2 separate regions of the Homo sapiens genome follow, and region 2 is linked to region 1. The links come from fine-mapping of genetic effects on gene expression. Tissue or cell type: whole blood. Region 1 holds a variant in brackets; the other region holds the start of a gene. All regions are shown on one strand. Distances are between the middles of the regions.

Evidence for each region. PIP is the estimated chance that this variant, and not a neighbour inherited with it, causes the effect.
Region 2: MCM3 starts here. The variant in region 1 is fine-mapped to the expression of MCM3 in whole blood (TOPMed, PIP above 0.99).

Annotation. Positions count from the first base shown.
Region 1 is chr6:52,329,156-52,337,264 of GRCh38, forward strand. No RefSeq gene overlaps it. Among named protein-coding and RNA genes, the nearest start is that of PAQR8, 29 kb to the right of the region's middle. RefSeq lists an enhancer at 7,962-8,109 and a cis regulatory region at 8,047. The variant A/C (reference allele first, on the strand shown) is at 4,832.
Region 2 is chr6:52,281,233-52,289,341 of GRCh38, forward strand. MCM3 (minichromosome maintenance complex component 3) reads right to left here and starts at 3,510. Exons shown (of 17, transcript NM_002388.6): 1 at 3,365-3,510; 2 at 2,062-2,174; 3 at 1,421-1,629; 4 at 813-943. The coding sequence starts at 3,442. RefSeq lists enhancers at 3,388-3,467, 3,788-3,987 and a silencer at 6,067-6,136.

The DNA.
Region 1 (8,109 bases):
TAGACCTGGCTGCTTTCCACTCTTCCTTTCTTTTCTTTTTTCTTTTCTCTTTTTTTTTTTTTGAGACAGAGTTTCGCTCTGTTGCCCAGGCTAGAGTGCAGTGGCGCTATCTCGGCTCACGGCAACCTCTGCCTCCTGGGTTCAAGTGATTCTTCTGCCTCAGCCTCCCAAGTAGCTGGGCATACAGGCATGTGCCACCATGCCTGGCTAATTTTGTATTTTTAGTAGAGATGGGGTTTCTCCGTGTTGGTCAGGCTGGTCGTGAACTCCTGACCTCAGGTGATCTACCTGCCTCGGCCTCCCATAGTGCTGGCATTACAGGTGTGAGCCACCGCACCAGGCCCCACTCCTCCTTTCAAAGAAGCCTTGCTGACCTGCCCTATAAAGGAGAACACATGAATGTGAGGTGCAGGCTTACACAAATACATAAATATAATTTTGCATATCATTTCAGGGAGTTCATGGACCACTGGATAAGCTCCAGTTAAAGACCACTTATTTAGTCTTCTTGCCTAACAAGCTCTCAGTTCCTGAAATTCTGATGCCAAGATTTTATTTATTTTTATTTTTTGAGACAGAATCTCGCTCTGTCTCCCAGGCTGGAGTGCGATGGCGCGATCTCAGCTCACTGCAACCTCCGCCTCCCAGGTTCAAGTGATCCTCCCGCCTCAGCCTCCCAAATAGCTGGGATTACAAGCGTGCACCACCACTCCTGGCTAATTTTTGTATTTTTTAGTAGAGACAGGATTTCACCATGTTGGCCAGGCTGGTCTCAAACTCCTGACCTCAGTGATCCGCCCACTTTGGCCTCCCAAAGTGCTAGGATAACAGGCCTGAGTGACTGTACCTGATCTTTGATGCCAAATTTTAGCTAACCTAATACACACTTAGATGCCTGCAATAAGATGCAAAATCATTTTTTTTTCTGTATTGGCAAGTGAATAGTCTTTATAAATTGCATAAAGCATGTGTAGATTGTGTACTAGAGAAGCCAACATTTTTATTCATTCATTTGTTCATTTGTTGATTACTCATTCATTTTACAAATATTTGTTTAGGCATTACTATTTTGGAGTAATACATTTATGTAAAATCAACCTCCAACTTTAAAAATCAGACCAGTTAATGGGAAGAACCAATATGTAAATAGACAGTTAACAATAGTGTGCTATGGCTGAGGGTGCTGAGGGAGCCTTGGAGAAAGTGAAGGGTGAGGGGAGGGTGGCGTGGAGAGGGCACCTAATTCAGCCTGGGAGTTGGGTATGGGCTGAGAGTGATTTCAGGCGGAGCTTCTGGGAGAAGGTGACACATAAACTGTATCTTGGGGGAGTTCTTAGAGTTCTCAGAAGGCAAGAGTGGGAGAAAGATAATCTCTCTAGATGGATCAATACTTTCAAAGAGCCAGAGTCAGAAAAGAGCATGGTGCATTGGAAAACTTGTCATTGGTTTGCTTCGGCTGGAATGGAGTGTGGATATGGAGACATGGCAGGAGCTGGAGCAAGGGCCACTTCACACAGGGTGTGAAATGCTAGTTGGAGGAACTTACTCTTTATCTCAATGGGGTGTGGAGCCTCTGAAAGCTATTTAGCAAGGCATGATGTAATCAGATTTGCATGCAGAATGGCAAGGTACAGTGGTAATCACACCCATACATGGGGATTGTTTCTATATACGTTGTATTTAAAACTGGAAAATAATAAAGAATTAAAATTGTGAATGACTTGCTTTACATAAATTAAAATAGGTACCAGGCTATGCCTTTAATAACAGCACTCTCAGCTACCTGTTTTTTGCTTTTTTTTTTTTTGAGACGGAGTTTCGCCCTTGTTGCCCAGGCTGGAGTGCAATGGTGTGATCTCAGCTCACCACAACCTCTGCCTCCCGGGTTCAAGAGATTCTCCTGCCTCAGCCTCCTGAGTAGCTGGGATTACAGGCATGTGCCACCATGCCCGGCTAATTTTTTGTATTTTTAGTAGAGACGGGGTTTCTCCATGTTGGTCAGGCTGATCTCAAACTCCCCACCTCACGTGATCCACCTGCCTCGGCCTCCCAAAATGCTGGGATTACAGGCATGAGCCACCATGCCCGTCCTGCTACTTGCTTTTAAATATTATTTTGAATGGTGTTAATGCCAGAGCTGAGGAAATAGCACATATAACTCACATTCCAGCTTGTCTTTGTCCTAGCTCTTAGAGAAGAACGCTATATAACCTCTAATACCAATGGAGATTTAAGTATTGTAGTGCTTCTTTATAACTTTATATTTATTTCCAATTTATCTTTATGTTTTCCAATAATTACATTTTTAGTTTAAAAAAGAGAAAAAATAGAAAGGAAGAAAACATTCATAGGACAGGTATATCATTAAGTGAATATTTTACTTACTCACATGTTTATAAAATGTTTTTATGAATATAATACCCCTTCCCTGAGTAGTCTGTGGTCTATGCTTTACTTTCCAGCTAAATTTTAGGAAACTGCATCAGAATTTAAGTCAAGGGAGTGAGTAATGCATGGTGAATATTATCTGTTATTGGTATATTGCAACAGGAAAAAAAAATAAAACCTAACTGACTGAGTGACTCAATGTCTATTTCAATCTCCTTTGAGTATGCCTTCCCATACTGCAGAATTGGGAAGCCAAAAACTACATTTTCCAAATTCCCCAGGTAGAGTTTCTAAGGATGTGACTTAGGTTGTGACAATTAGACACACTGACATAAGACTCCAAATTCAGAGTTGAATGAGTTGTTGGGGCACAAGGCGGGCAGGGCAGGAAGCATCTATTCTGCTTGTGCGGAGCACAGCAACCCTAGGTTGTGAGTTTGCTAGCTCAGCTGACACTCCCTAACTGTGGCAGAAGCAGCAACTCCCCTGGCAACTCAGTTCTGAGTGTGACTTTGTTCCTAGTAATTCAGCCTCAAATCCACTTCTTCAGCTCTCCCACTGATTCTGTAAGCCAATTAATACCTTGCAATAATCTTTTTGGCTTAAACTAGCTAGGGAAGGCTATGCTTTCTGCACCTGAACCATGACCAATGTAGTCAGCGAAACCTGAGCCTTTGAGAAAAAGCTGAGGAGAAGCCAGAAAAGTAGCAGTAAAACCAGGACAGGCTGCTACCCTACAATCAAGACAGAAGAGAGTTTCAATAAGCAATGAAACACTGCAGAGAGGCCAAGACAGACACAAATATGAAGTAAAAACGATTCAGCCAGGAGGTCAAAGATGATGTGGAGAGGAGCCATTTCATGGAGTGGCAGGGGAGGAAGCCATATTGCAGGTGGTTGAGGAGAGTCTTCCATTTTATTTGGACTTAATTTTTTTGAGACAGGTCTCGCTCTGTGGCCCAGGCTGGAGTGCAGTGGCGTGATCTCGGTTCATTGCAACCTCCACCTCCCGGGTTCAAGCAATTCTCTGCCTCAGCCTCCTGAGTAGTTGGGATTACAGGCACACACCACCACGCCCGGCTAATTTTTGTATGTTTAGTAGAGATGGTGTTTCACCATGTTGGCCAGGCTGGTCTTGATCTCCTGACCTTGTGATCGATCCGCCTTAGCCTCCCAAAGTGCTGGGATTACAGGAGTGAGCCACCACGCCCCACGTGGACTCAATTTATGAAGTAAGAGTCAGGTGCTGACTACATGATGTGAGAGGTACAGGAAGGTTTTTACATTTCCTATTACTGTGCCTAGAAGCCTACATGGTGGCCCAATCAGGAGGTAGGAATTTTTCTTCTGTCGTCATCTATTAAAGGGGCTCTAGCCCCAACTCTGCCACTGGGAGTTCTGTGAAATAGTTCTCTGAAATTCCATTTTAAAAGAGAAAAAGTTCTTTAGAAAATGGGCATATGGCTAGGTGCAGCTGCTCACACCTGCAATTCCGGCACGTTGGGAGGCCAAGGTGGGAGAATTGCTTGAGCCCAGGAGTTTAAGACCAGCCTGGGCAACATAGCAAGACGCTATCTCTAAAAAAAAATACAAAAATTAGCCGGGTATGGTGATGTATACCTGTAGTCCCCACTACTCAGAAGGCTGAGGTGGGAGGATTGCTTGAGCTAAAGAGGTCGAGGCTGCAGTGAGCTAGGATTGAGCCACTGCACTCCAGCCTGGGCAATGGAGTGACACCCCGTCTCAAGAAAGAAAGAAAGAAAGAGAGAAAGAGAGAAAGAGAGAAAGAGAGAAAGAGAGAAAGAGAGAAAGAGAGAGAGAGAGAGAGAGAGAGAGAGAGAAGGAAGGAAGGAAGGAAGGAAGGAAGGAAGGAAGGAAGGAAGGAAGGAGAGAGAGAGAGAGAGAGAAAGAAGGAAGGAAGGAAGGAAGGAAGGAAGGAGAAAGAAAGAAAGAAAAAGAAAGAAAGAAAGAAAGAAAGAAAGAAAGAAAGAAAGAAAGAAAGAAAGAAAGAAAAGACAAAGAAAACAGGCATACTAATACCTGTCCTGCCTTCTGCACAGGCAGAATGGTGAAAGAGATAAGAGCACAGGATTTGGACTTGGTCAGACCCAGGCTTTAATCCTGATTTTGCCGCTAGTTAGCTGTGTGACCTTGGGCAAGTTATGTATACCTAGCTTTCTCCTCTGGAAATTAGGGATAAGAGTATCAGCTTCACAGTGATTATGACGATTAGTTGAGGTATGTAAGGCATTCAGCACAGTGACTGGCAGGTAGCAAGCTCTCAGAAGATGACAGTTAATTTCATAAGTGGTCCAAAATACCTTTTGGGAGATAATGCTCACGAGTGTTTTATTCACAGGGTTGCTGGCCAAATGAGAAAATGCACAGGAAAGCAAAATGTAACAGGCCTATCAGGATGAAAACACTGTGAGAAAGGTCACAC[A/C]TTAAACCACAAATGTTTTGGGTTCCTTGACAACTAGATTGTGCTACAGAGTTGGTAGGGTAGGGAGGAAGAGGAGAAGCTGAACTTCAACTGCTGCAGTTTTTCCTGGGGCTGGCCCTTGTTAGAATAATAGACACTCTACCATAGAGAGGCAGTTGATTCACCTATACCTGTTGGATAAAAAAGAAAACCATGTGGCTGGTGGAGCTGAGAAAGTGGAAAGAATAAAGGGAGCAGAAGATATATTGCTTGAAATCAGGCAAAAGTTCCATATATCAAAAGCCTCATTCTGGCTGACTTCATCACCAAACTCCCCTCCCAGAGGCCTCTGCCTGGGCTTTTGCAGAAAACATGTACAAACTCTATGCAAAGTAAGAATCCAAAATAGCTTATTTAGAAATAAACCACCTGCTTGTACAAACAGGAAGATCTGAAATCCCTGGAGTTGGGCAAGTGAGTTCCTTGCTTCCCTGCCTAGCCCAGCCTCCTACTGGACCCCCACTACCACAAAGGGATGGAATTACACTCCTTTCTCTCCAGCCTCTTTGCTTTGCTTTTTCCTTTTATTTTTAGTTGTCATGTAATAATTGTACAAATTGATGGGATATGGAGTGCTATTTCTTTTTCTTTTTTTTTTTGAGATGGAGTCTCGCTCTTTCACCCAGGCTGGAGTGCAGTGGTGCAATCTCAGCTCACTGCAACCTCCGCCTCCCGGGTTCAAGCGATTCTCCTGCCTCAGCCTCCTGAGTAGCTGTGACTACAGGCACGCATCACCATGCCCAGCTAATTTTTTGTATTTTTAGTAGAGACGGGGTTTCACAATGTTAGCCAGGTTGGTCTCAATCTCCTGACCTTGTGATCAGCCTGCCTCAGCCTCCCAAAGTGCTGGGATTACAGGCGTGAGCCACCGCACCCAGCTGGAGTGCTATTTTAATACATGCATACAATGAGTAATGATCAAATCAGGGTAATTAGCATATCATCACTTCAAACACTTACCATTTCTTTGTGTTGTGAACATTCAAAATCATCTTGTAGCTTTTTGAGAATATACAATAAATTATAATTAACCACATTCGCAAAGCACCAGAACTCTCACCCTCCTCCCCTCCCTCACCCACCCTTCCCAGCCTCTAATACTCACAATTCTACTCTCTACTTCCATGGGCTCAAAAAATTTATTTTATCTCCCACATGAGTGAGATCATGCGGTATTTGTCTTTCAGTGCTTGGTGTATTTCACTTAACATAAAGTCCTCCAGGCTCATCTATGCCATGAATGACAGGATTTTCTTCTTTTTTATTCCAACCCCTTTTCTTTGTTCCTTCTCATGGGAACACATCAATAAAGGCACCTACTGGTGGCCAAAGGGGGCTCTCTGATGCCACCACCCCATTCCCTATCCTACCCTTTATCCCATCCTTTATTCCTGTCAGAGACTAAACAGAGACAGGGGAATGAGTTTTCACTGTGGATTACTTAATTTTTTTAGGTCACAGTGTTCTAATCAGTAATCATCCATCTTTCTGTTACCTCATTCTGTGAGGCGAAGAATTTAAAGCCTGCTTGAATTCAAGGTCAGGCTGCCTTCTGCAGCTGGAGGCATCCCCAGCAGGCCAAGGCTTCACTCTCTCAGCTGGTGTCAGGGACCCTTAGGGAGTGGACAGAATAGCATGTGGAAAGAGGCAGTGTGACCAGCCTTGCCACCTGTTTCACAGGTGGCACTGCTGGCTGAGTCAGTCTGCTAAGGAGGACAGCCCTGGAACTGGTCAGAGAAGGCTTAGTAAATCTCTTCTGATTGCTAACCTCTGAGACCTCACAGCCTATAATTTCCCAAGACAGACCTGTTATTACAAACAGTCAACCTAGTAATCACTGCCCAAGCCCAGGTGTCCTGAAGAAGTAGGGTGGAAGCTTGCATTGAAAAAGGAAAATGATAAGGAGATATTTGCCCAGCAAAGATATTCTGTAGAACAGATAACATGGGCACATTGTACTGCCTTCCTCCATCTTCCCACAGCACCTACCAAAGTCCTGGCAAGCCATCAAATTAGGCTTATAGGTAGCTGCCCTTTCTGAAGGCTACATTCAAATTTTTCTAAAAGATAATTTGATTTCATTCAGTTCAACCCAGTGAGTTTATACATTTATTTTAGCATCTATTCTATGCTTGGTACTGTGAGGATGAGCCATGAATTAAAACATCAGGTCAGCGTATACTCGACACAGTTGTAGAAATGAGAACCTTTACTTTTTCACAGTGAAGACCGAGGAAGCTGAAAAGAATGCTTTTGGTTTTCTTCCCTCTACCCCAGACTCTCCCAAGGCCATACTTTTCTCTCTCTCTCTCACTCTGGGGGAAGAAATATTGAAATTTTTTATCTAAGGCTTTTTCCTAGAATTTGAACTGCATAGGGAACATTGCTTCATCATCAACATTTTCTTTCATTTTCAACCTCTTTCCACCTGCCCTAAAAACATGTTTGAATCTAACCCACCCCTACTGTTCTTTCTCTACCTTCATTTCTTCCTGGGATACAGTTTTTCATCTTTTGCTCATGCAATTAATTATTCATTCATTAATTTAACAAATATTTAGTGATGAACAGTATGAGTAAGGCCCTTTCCTACGCTGGAGACAAAAATGAATAAAGCCTTGTTCCTTTAATGAAGCAGTCCCTAACCTTTTTTGACACCAGGAACTGTGTGGCCTAAGTGAGTTACATATTCCCTCTGAGACTCAGTTTACCCTAAGATTCTGTTAACTGGGAATAACTATGTATTTGAGAGTTATTGTGAGGGTTAAATGATATATCGTGTGAAAAGCTCCTGTCACATGGTCAGTGCTAAACAAATATTAGTCACCTTTCCTTGCATGACACTATACATTCTTAGCTCTTTGCCCATTTCTCAGACTGCTTAACCTAGAATTTCTTTGCTGGATCTGTGTTATCCCTATCCCCCTGAATTGTAGGCATTACTTAATAGAAATTTGTTTTTGAGGGTTACCCAGGATCCCCTCACCAAAATTCCAGGGAAAGTTCAGGACTGTAGTTTGGAGACCCCGCCCCTTCCCACTTCCAGCACCATCCCTCATCCCCAGCCTGAGTGGTCTTGGGACAGCAGAAATGGGGGTGACATGTGACCCAGGTTTGGCCAATCAGAGCCTTGCATTCTCCTGAAAGAACAACGATTGGTTCAATGATGGGCACGACACTCCTCTAGACTTCTTTGCTTATATGAGCCGCGAATTCCTCTTTTTGCTTAAGCTCTTTGG
Region 2 (8,109 bases), 48 kb before region 1:
AAAGATTACATAACAGTCTAGCATTATTTTTCTACTTTTTAAAAAGCAGATTCTAAAATTATAACGTTGTTAAAACATCTATGTAGATGACTTCTTCTTTTGACTATTCCTTAATTTTCTAAAATGAACAAGTGTTTTCTTAAAAAAATAATAAGAGTTGTGGCTGGGCATGGTGGTTCATGTCTGTAATCTCAATACTTTGGAAGATGGAAGCAGGAGGATCACTTGAGGCCACGACTTCCAGTCCAGCCTGGGCAACATAGCGAGACCCTGTCTCTAGAAAAAAGTGAAAAAAAAAATTAGCGGACCTGGTGGTGCATGCCTATAATCCCAGGTACTCAGGAGGCTAAGGTGAGAAGATTCGTTGAGTCCAGGAGTTTCAGGCTGCAGTGTTCTATAATGGCACCACTGCACTCCAGCCTGAGAGAGACAGATCCCGTCTCTAAAAAAAAAAATAAGAATTGTGAAGCCAGGTGGCGTAGCACATGCCTGCAATCCCAACTACTTGGGAGGATCACTTGAGCCCCGGAGTTTGCAAATTTAGTGCACCATGACTGCACCTGCAAATACCCACTGCACTCCAACTTAGGCAACATAGGAGAACCTCATCTTTAAAAATAAATAAATAAATAAATAAGAATTGTGGGCTTTTCATATTAAACTCTGGCCTGCAATCAATCTTTCCTTTGGATTAATCCTTATTTTTCACCCTTTACAGAAAAAAGACTTCAGATATTACACAATTCCTTGCCTTAAAACAGGTATCTTTGATTCCAACCTCCAAGACAGCTCAACTGATTTATCCCCCTTACCTTGGTAGGATAGACAGAGCTGGAGGGAAAGGCCACCAGGGTGGTGAGATCAGAATAACGTCGCTCTATGGTCTTCTTAGTAGCAGGACAGTAGTGGACACTGCGGACGACTTTGGGACGAACTAGAGAACCTAGGGATGGAAAATGTGCATATATAAACTCACCCAACTAGACGATGATACAGGTGGAACCCAAACATATGCAAGCCTATAATGACTCCAAATACTGTGTTTTTTTGACTAGGTTACGATATTTCAATATTACCTTTTATTCACTTTTTTATTTATATATAGACCACCACCATATCCATGTAAAATTTTAAGTACCACCAATCCCAACTAATAAATAGGTGGAGTTAGAGGTTGGAATTAGAGATTGCCAGGAACCAAGACTCCTCCAGCTCTCAGCAGAATTCATCATTCTACTAATACATGTGATTACTCAAGGTCCCCCAATCATTGTACACACTGAGCCCTCCAAGTTTTACCACGTAATTCCAATGCTCCACCTCTTTGAAGCCACAAGCTACCCAGATCTACTTTGCCTCTCCTGCTTTCCCCATCTCCCTGTCTATTCATTTCCTAAGCGGCCCCCTTTAACCCACTTACATTTAGTGACAATGCCCTCCACACAGACCACACAGCTGAGGAAGCAGGAGGTAAGAGTCCGCGGGGAGACGTGCTTGGAGCCAAAGCTGCCTTCCAGTCCTACGTAGAACTCCTCATACTGCTTGGCATAGGTAGCATCAATGGAGGCCACAAAATCCTTTAAGGCCCGCTGGAAGGCAACCAGCTCCTCAAAGGCATTGTTCAGAAGCCTGTACATAAGCAAGAGAAAGAAAAATTAGACTGGGCAGAACTCAAAAAAATGGATCCTCAAAACAGCAGACATTCTTAGATCATTAAAAACAATGAGAAAATCCAGCTTCTGCTTTCTCCTATAAGTCTCAGTAAAACACCATCCTATAAGACTCAGTAAAATACCAGAACTAAGGACCAACTTCACCTCAACTTATCAAAGATATAAAAATGATATTCAGCTAAACATTGGAAGGAGGGGCATTTGGGAGGAAAATGCCAACCACCCACTTTTTGAAAAAAAAAAAAAAAAAAATAGGTGCAGGTGAGCTACGAGGGCTTGTAGATCAATCCTGTTTCATACAAGTCCTCTCCTGAGAGGCTGTTCCAATCTGGCCAAGAGGGAAGGGAGCCATTCTCACTGACAGCCAGTATATCCCCTTGCCTCTCACCGGTTAGCCCTCTTCTCGTTTTTCCTGCGCAGGTCATTCACATTGACAATCAGCCGGTATTGGTTGTCACTGATCAGCTCCCGAACTTTGCTCTGATAAATTCCCTGGTCTTCCTGCAAAACAGCCACCACATATCACCATAGCCACAAATTTAAAAACAATGTTTCTAAACAGAAGTAGTTCTCATAGCCAGATAGCTAAGTCAATCTCTGCAGCAGAGCTGAATCCCCAGTAAGTATGTGCTCATCAATTTCTCCCTTTCATTCACTGTTTTTAGATTCGAAATAACACCCTAAGAGGGGACTATAAGAATTATAATGACTTCCTCAAGGTCCATGCTGTTATTCCCATCATCATGGACAACTTTTCTGCATGCTGTAATTTCTGTCTTTAGTGGAGAATTAAAATGAGCTCATGAGAAGTCTAAATGGACAGTAAGTGCAAACTTTGTTAAAATGTTAAGTTAAACCTAGCAATGTGAATGTTAAAGGTAACAACGTGAATAGATGGATATGTTGTTTCACTGTAGTAATCATTTCACCATGTATATCAAAACATGTGCACTTCAAATATATACAATAAAAATGTAAATAAAACAGACTCTTAATAGTCACATTAAAATGGCTTTTCATTTAAGAATTATGTAAAAAGTAATATTTTTTCCAATCATCTCTATAATACGGAAAGGGTTCTCATACCCCGACCTAAAGGAATAGAGAATCTCAGCTATTTGGTCACATCATCAACCCTTCAAGATGGTTTTTTCAACATTCTATGGCTTTAAGTCTTGGGTTGCACATAAAATCCCCTTGGCCTGCACACAAAACACTTTTTATCTGCATCTTAGTTGGTATTGAAAAAGAATGCAGCCGAATTATGGAGTCTTTTCCTCCAGGTAAAACGTCAGTCCCTAAAATCTGAGCACTCTGCAACGCGGCTGGTCACTATAGCCCTAGGGCAGCCCCTCCCCCACAGTCTCCTCAAATCAAGAGAGAGCAGTGAAATGCAAAAGGCCGAGGTGGGCTTTGCCAATCTGCTTGCACTTAATGGGAACCTGTCGCCTTTTGCGCGCCCGGACCATCGCTTGTACTTAAGAGAAAGCTGGCTTCCTAAGAGTTCACTTATCGAACACAAACTAGCGAGTCCGGCGTTGAGAAGTTACAAGATTGGGGCTGGAGGCTCGGGCCCGGCAGGCTCCGCTGCGGCACACGGTCTGGAGGTCTGGCGGGCCTCTGGCTTCCCGGCCGGGCCGCGTCCGCAGGGGCTCCGAGCGCTAGAGCCCGCGCGCCGGCGCCTCCCTCACCTCGTCGTCCAGGAAGTCCAGGTAATCTCTCTGAGCCTCCCGCAGCTCCACATCGTCCAGCACCACGGTACCCGCCATGCCCGCTGCCAAAGAACTACCTCCACCAAAGTCGCGTGGAGGTTCCCAGGATGACTCCACCCCGGCGCGAAAACTTCCGAACTCTTCCCGCCACCAAAGGTTACCTCGAGGAAGAGGCGGGGACCTTGGGAGCATATAAGCATTATGATTGGCTGAGTTCTCTGAGGTCGGACTAGCGACTGTCCAATCAAAAGCTTCTTCTTCTTCGGGTTTTCCGCTGCGCGCCCCGCGGTGGCGGGAAACGTACCATCCGGGATTCTCTGTTCCTCCCCTCCCTCCGCCTCACTCACTGACGAGCAAACTGACCAATAGGGCTGAGAGGAGGCTCACAGAGGCTGGTCATTGAGCAGCTGGAGGGGACAGGCTGGCGAGAGGGAAAGCATTGCGTTCTGGGAGTTGTAGTGTTCTCCCTCCTTTCCGGATGTTTTTGCAGGGTTTTTCAAGCTGCAGAACTTTTGACCCGATGCAACGACCAAATTCAGAGGATGGTGCTTTATAACGCAGGGAGATGAAAACATAAAAGCAAATCATTTTTAAGATATATCCAAATCAGAACTGCCCTCCAGTGGCATCCTAGTGTAAAAGTGGATTTTGAGAATCTATAGGATAGAATATAGAACTACAGTACCTTAGGGAAAGATTAGTTAAAAACCCATTTGCTATCTGATACCGTTGCCTGACGAACTCCATAAAGACATCGCCGCAGAGAAGGATGAAGTGAAAAAAAAAATCTGTGTTTACCCTGCCCCCTAGAGACTTCATCGTGTGTTATACAAATTTTGGAAACCGTTACTACTCCATCTTACTTAATAACAGGTAAATTAAAGGCTTTCTGGTCTTATAAAAAGATCACAAGATCCTTTTAAGTAACTTAGCTTACTGAACGATCAGCTCAAGAGGGGAAAAAGTGTTTCACGTCACTTTGATTAAATATCAATCAGTAACTAACAGCAAATCTGAAACCATAATGACTAAAAGATCATCGCACGTCCAAATTTGTATGTTTGTTTTCAGTCCGTCGTGGTTGGCTTTTTCTTATATTTCTAGTTTTATTTTGAGATATAATGTATATACAGTAAAATGCACAAATCTTAAGTGTACAGCTCAGTGAATTTTTACCTGTGCTTACACCCATGTAACCACTCTGCACAATAAAGAGCAAGCCCATTGCCCCAGCATGTGTTTTTAATTTTACTGAACAAGAAGCTGAAATACTGGATTGCCCAACATCAGACATTTGATAATTCTTTATCTGAAATTTCAGCCAACTATTAGCTTATGTTTTAAAGTCTTCAGGACTCACTATGTACTGATAAATATTCTAAGAATAATCTGCCTAAACAAAATATATAGGCCATCTATTTGTGTGGGTATATGTATTTCTAGTTATTATTCAGTTTATAGTTACTGTATGTTTTGTGCCATCCTAGTGGGCAGATAAATCGATCCTTAGCCAAAGCAAAAAGGCTGTCATTTGACTGCTTGCTTTTATGTTTATTAACGGGCAAAAAAAAAAGAAAATTCTAGAATAAAGATACTGTTTGCCGTTATATAGCAAGAGGTAATTACTGATTTATTAAGACTTTTTACTCATAACTCTTATTTTATGAACTTATTGGACAGAGTACTGAGATATCCTCTGCTCTGGAAACAATTTGAAATTAACACTAAAAGAACCGGGAAGCTTAGTTCAAACTAGCAAAGAAGTCGAGTCATTTGTAGTAGAAAGTCCAAAAGAGTGGAAATCTGAAAACCACATCTTTGATTCTCACACTTTTTTCTGGGCTTGTTTCCTTATATACAGTATAAGATGAAGAAACTGAATTAGAATATCTCTGATAATCTGTCTTACTCTAACATTCCATGAGCTAATGGCAAATTTGGAAACTATGTAAAGACAATTCTATTTAATGAATTAATCATGCCATGGTCTTTGATAAAGACTTGATTTGTCCCAATATAATCATCTTCAGCTGTGAAGGACACACCGCTATTTAATTGGTGTTTCTCCCTTCTTTCATTAGGGCATGAAATCTTTAAGCAGAGGAAATGTATTTCCTTTGTTATCCCCGACACCTGCAAACTGCCCAAAATCAATCAGGTTGTTGCTACAGAAAAATTAGGGGCATTTGTACATATCTCATAAAAAGTCCAGCTGAGCTTAGCCCGTAGTCCTCCTCTATCCTGATTCAAAATTAAAAAGCACATATAATCTAATAAAGTAGTGTATCTACAGTTTCCATACTTGGGTCACATTCCTGCTTTCCTCCATTTCAATTTTCTTTCCACCCTAGACTTTAATGGACTCAAGCCCATCTCCAAGGCTGCCTAAACGCTAGGGGGCTCCCTGGAGAGCAGAGTATACAGGAAGAGAATGGAAAGAAAACAAGATTGCAAAGAGATTGCAAAATAGATGTAATACTGCCATTTTTCTATGTCCTCAGGGTCCAAAAAATACCCAAAGACACAATACAAATCCATAATAAATATTATTACAAGAAATTATATATACCTTTGTTCAAACTAATGAACATTATATGTTGCAAAACATTTCAAATAATACCCTGTAATTAATAACTTGTTTAGGCACTCAGGAAAGTGCCATAATTCATTAGCAGTCCTTTGACATTTACTCAAAGGCCACCAAAGCTTGGAGGTGAGCAAATCTATGCCTCCAGGTGTCACAGCAGCTCAAGGAATAATCTGTAGGCACAGGCTTGCCCTAACCTCACAGTTCTGCAGTGTGAAGTCAGAATCTTCAGATGCTGTAGCATCTAGAGTTTCAAGCACCAAGACAGGCAGATTTGGTTACTCTTTCTGGCTGCTCTGTATATTACCTGCACGACTAGGCAACTTACTTAACCACTCTGTGCCTCAGTTTCTTCACCTTTCAAATTAGGTTAGTAGTATCTAACTCAAATGTTTAAGTATCCAGTGAAGTCATAACAGATGTAAACTACTGAAAAAAGTGCCTGGTATGTAGTAAGCATTAAATAAATGTTAACCATTGGTAGTGGTGGTGAATGGTAGTTGGAGAGGAGTCAAGGGATAGGAGAAGGGGAGGAAGCACTGTAGTGCATTCTGAAACAATTCAGACAACCAAATTCAAACCCCCTTCCCACTTCCACCAAAAAACTTACAATACAACCAACCCAGACACTTCCTTGAGTGGGACCTTTTTCTGCTGGAAGTCCAATTGGCTAAAAAAAATAACATAGGCAGGGTGTTGTTTGGCTCGGATTCCGACAGTGTTGGAAGCCATCAGATGCATTTACTCCATGCTCAAAGAACATTATGGAATACTAAATGGACTCCTTTATAAAACTCTTTTAAAAGAGTCTGGTCAGCCGGCACAGTGGCTCACACCAGTAATCCTAGCAATTTGTGAGGCCGAGGCAAGTGGATCACCTGAGGTCAGGAGTTCAAGACCAGCCTGGCCAACATAGTGAAACCCCGTCTCTACCAAAAATACAAAAAAATTAGCTAGGCATGGTGGCCGGCACCTATAATCCCAGCTACTTGGAAGACTGAGGCAGGATAATCGCTTGAACCCAGGAGGCGGAGGTTGCAATAAGCCAAGATCACGCCATTGCACTCCAGCCTGGGTGACAAAAGTGAAACTCTGTCTCAAAAAATAAATAAATAAACGAGTCTGATCACCTTTCTTGTCTCCCTTTTGCACTCTTCTGTTGCTTCCTGGAGTCCTTCCGGTTAGATATGCTAAAAAGAGCCGGAAAATCCAGGAGCCAGACAGAGAACATCAGTGATCATGATTTTCCCATTAAATATAACAACACAGTTGGCTTGCCAACAATTAGTGATTCATTGGTATTTGCCAAGGTTAATTTCAGTAATCTGATTTCTTAGTCCGTAAGAAGTCATCCCCATTCTTTTTCTTTCTGAGAGATAGGTTCACTATGCTGCCCAGAATGGTCTTAAACTCCTGGCCTCAAGTGATCCTACCACCTTGGCGTGAGCCACCATGCCCAGCCCCCATTCTTTTTTTTTTTTTTTTGACGAAGTCTCGCTCTGTCGCCCAGACTGGAGTGCAGTGTGCAATCTCGGCTCACTGCCACCTCTACCTCTCGGGTTCAAGCAATTCTCCTGCCTCAGCCTCCCGAGTAGCTGGGATTACAGGCAGGCGCCACCATGCCCAGCTAATTTTTGTATTTTTAGCAGAGACTGGGTTTCACCATGTTGGTCAGGCTTGAACTCCTGACCTCATGATCCACCCACCTCGGCCTCTCAAAGTGCTGGAATTACAGGTGTGAGCCACTGCACCCGGCTGAGCCCCCATTCTTAATTGTACAAGTCTTTACTGATGCTCTGAAGAGCTTTGCTTCAATGCTTAGAACCACAGATTTGCAGAAGGAAATGATTAAACACAAATTGAGTGAATATGAATATAGCATATGAAATGCTCTGATAATAACTCCATTCTGTAAATCTGTCTAGATTTGTTGTAAGCATGCATTTTTAAAGATACAGTCCCTTAATGTAATAAAATGATGTACATTGGCATGGTAGGGGAAAAAAGAAATAAATGTTTTTAAAAATGATGAAGAGCTTTAGCCATACCAAACAATCAAATATTAGTTAAGCATCTGTAATCTGTATACCTAATTCTGTCCTGGAACAAAGACTTTTAGATCAGTGCTGCTGGATAG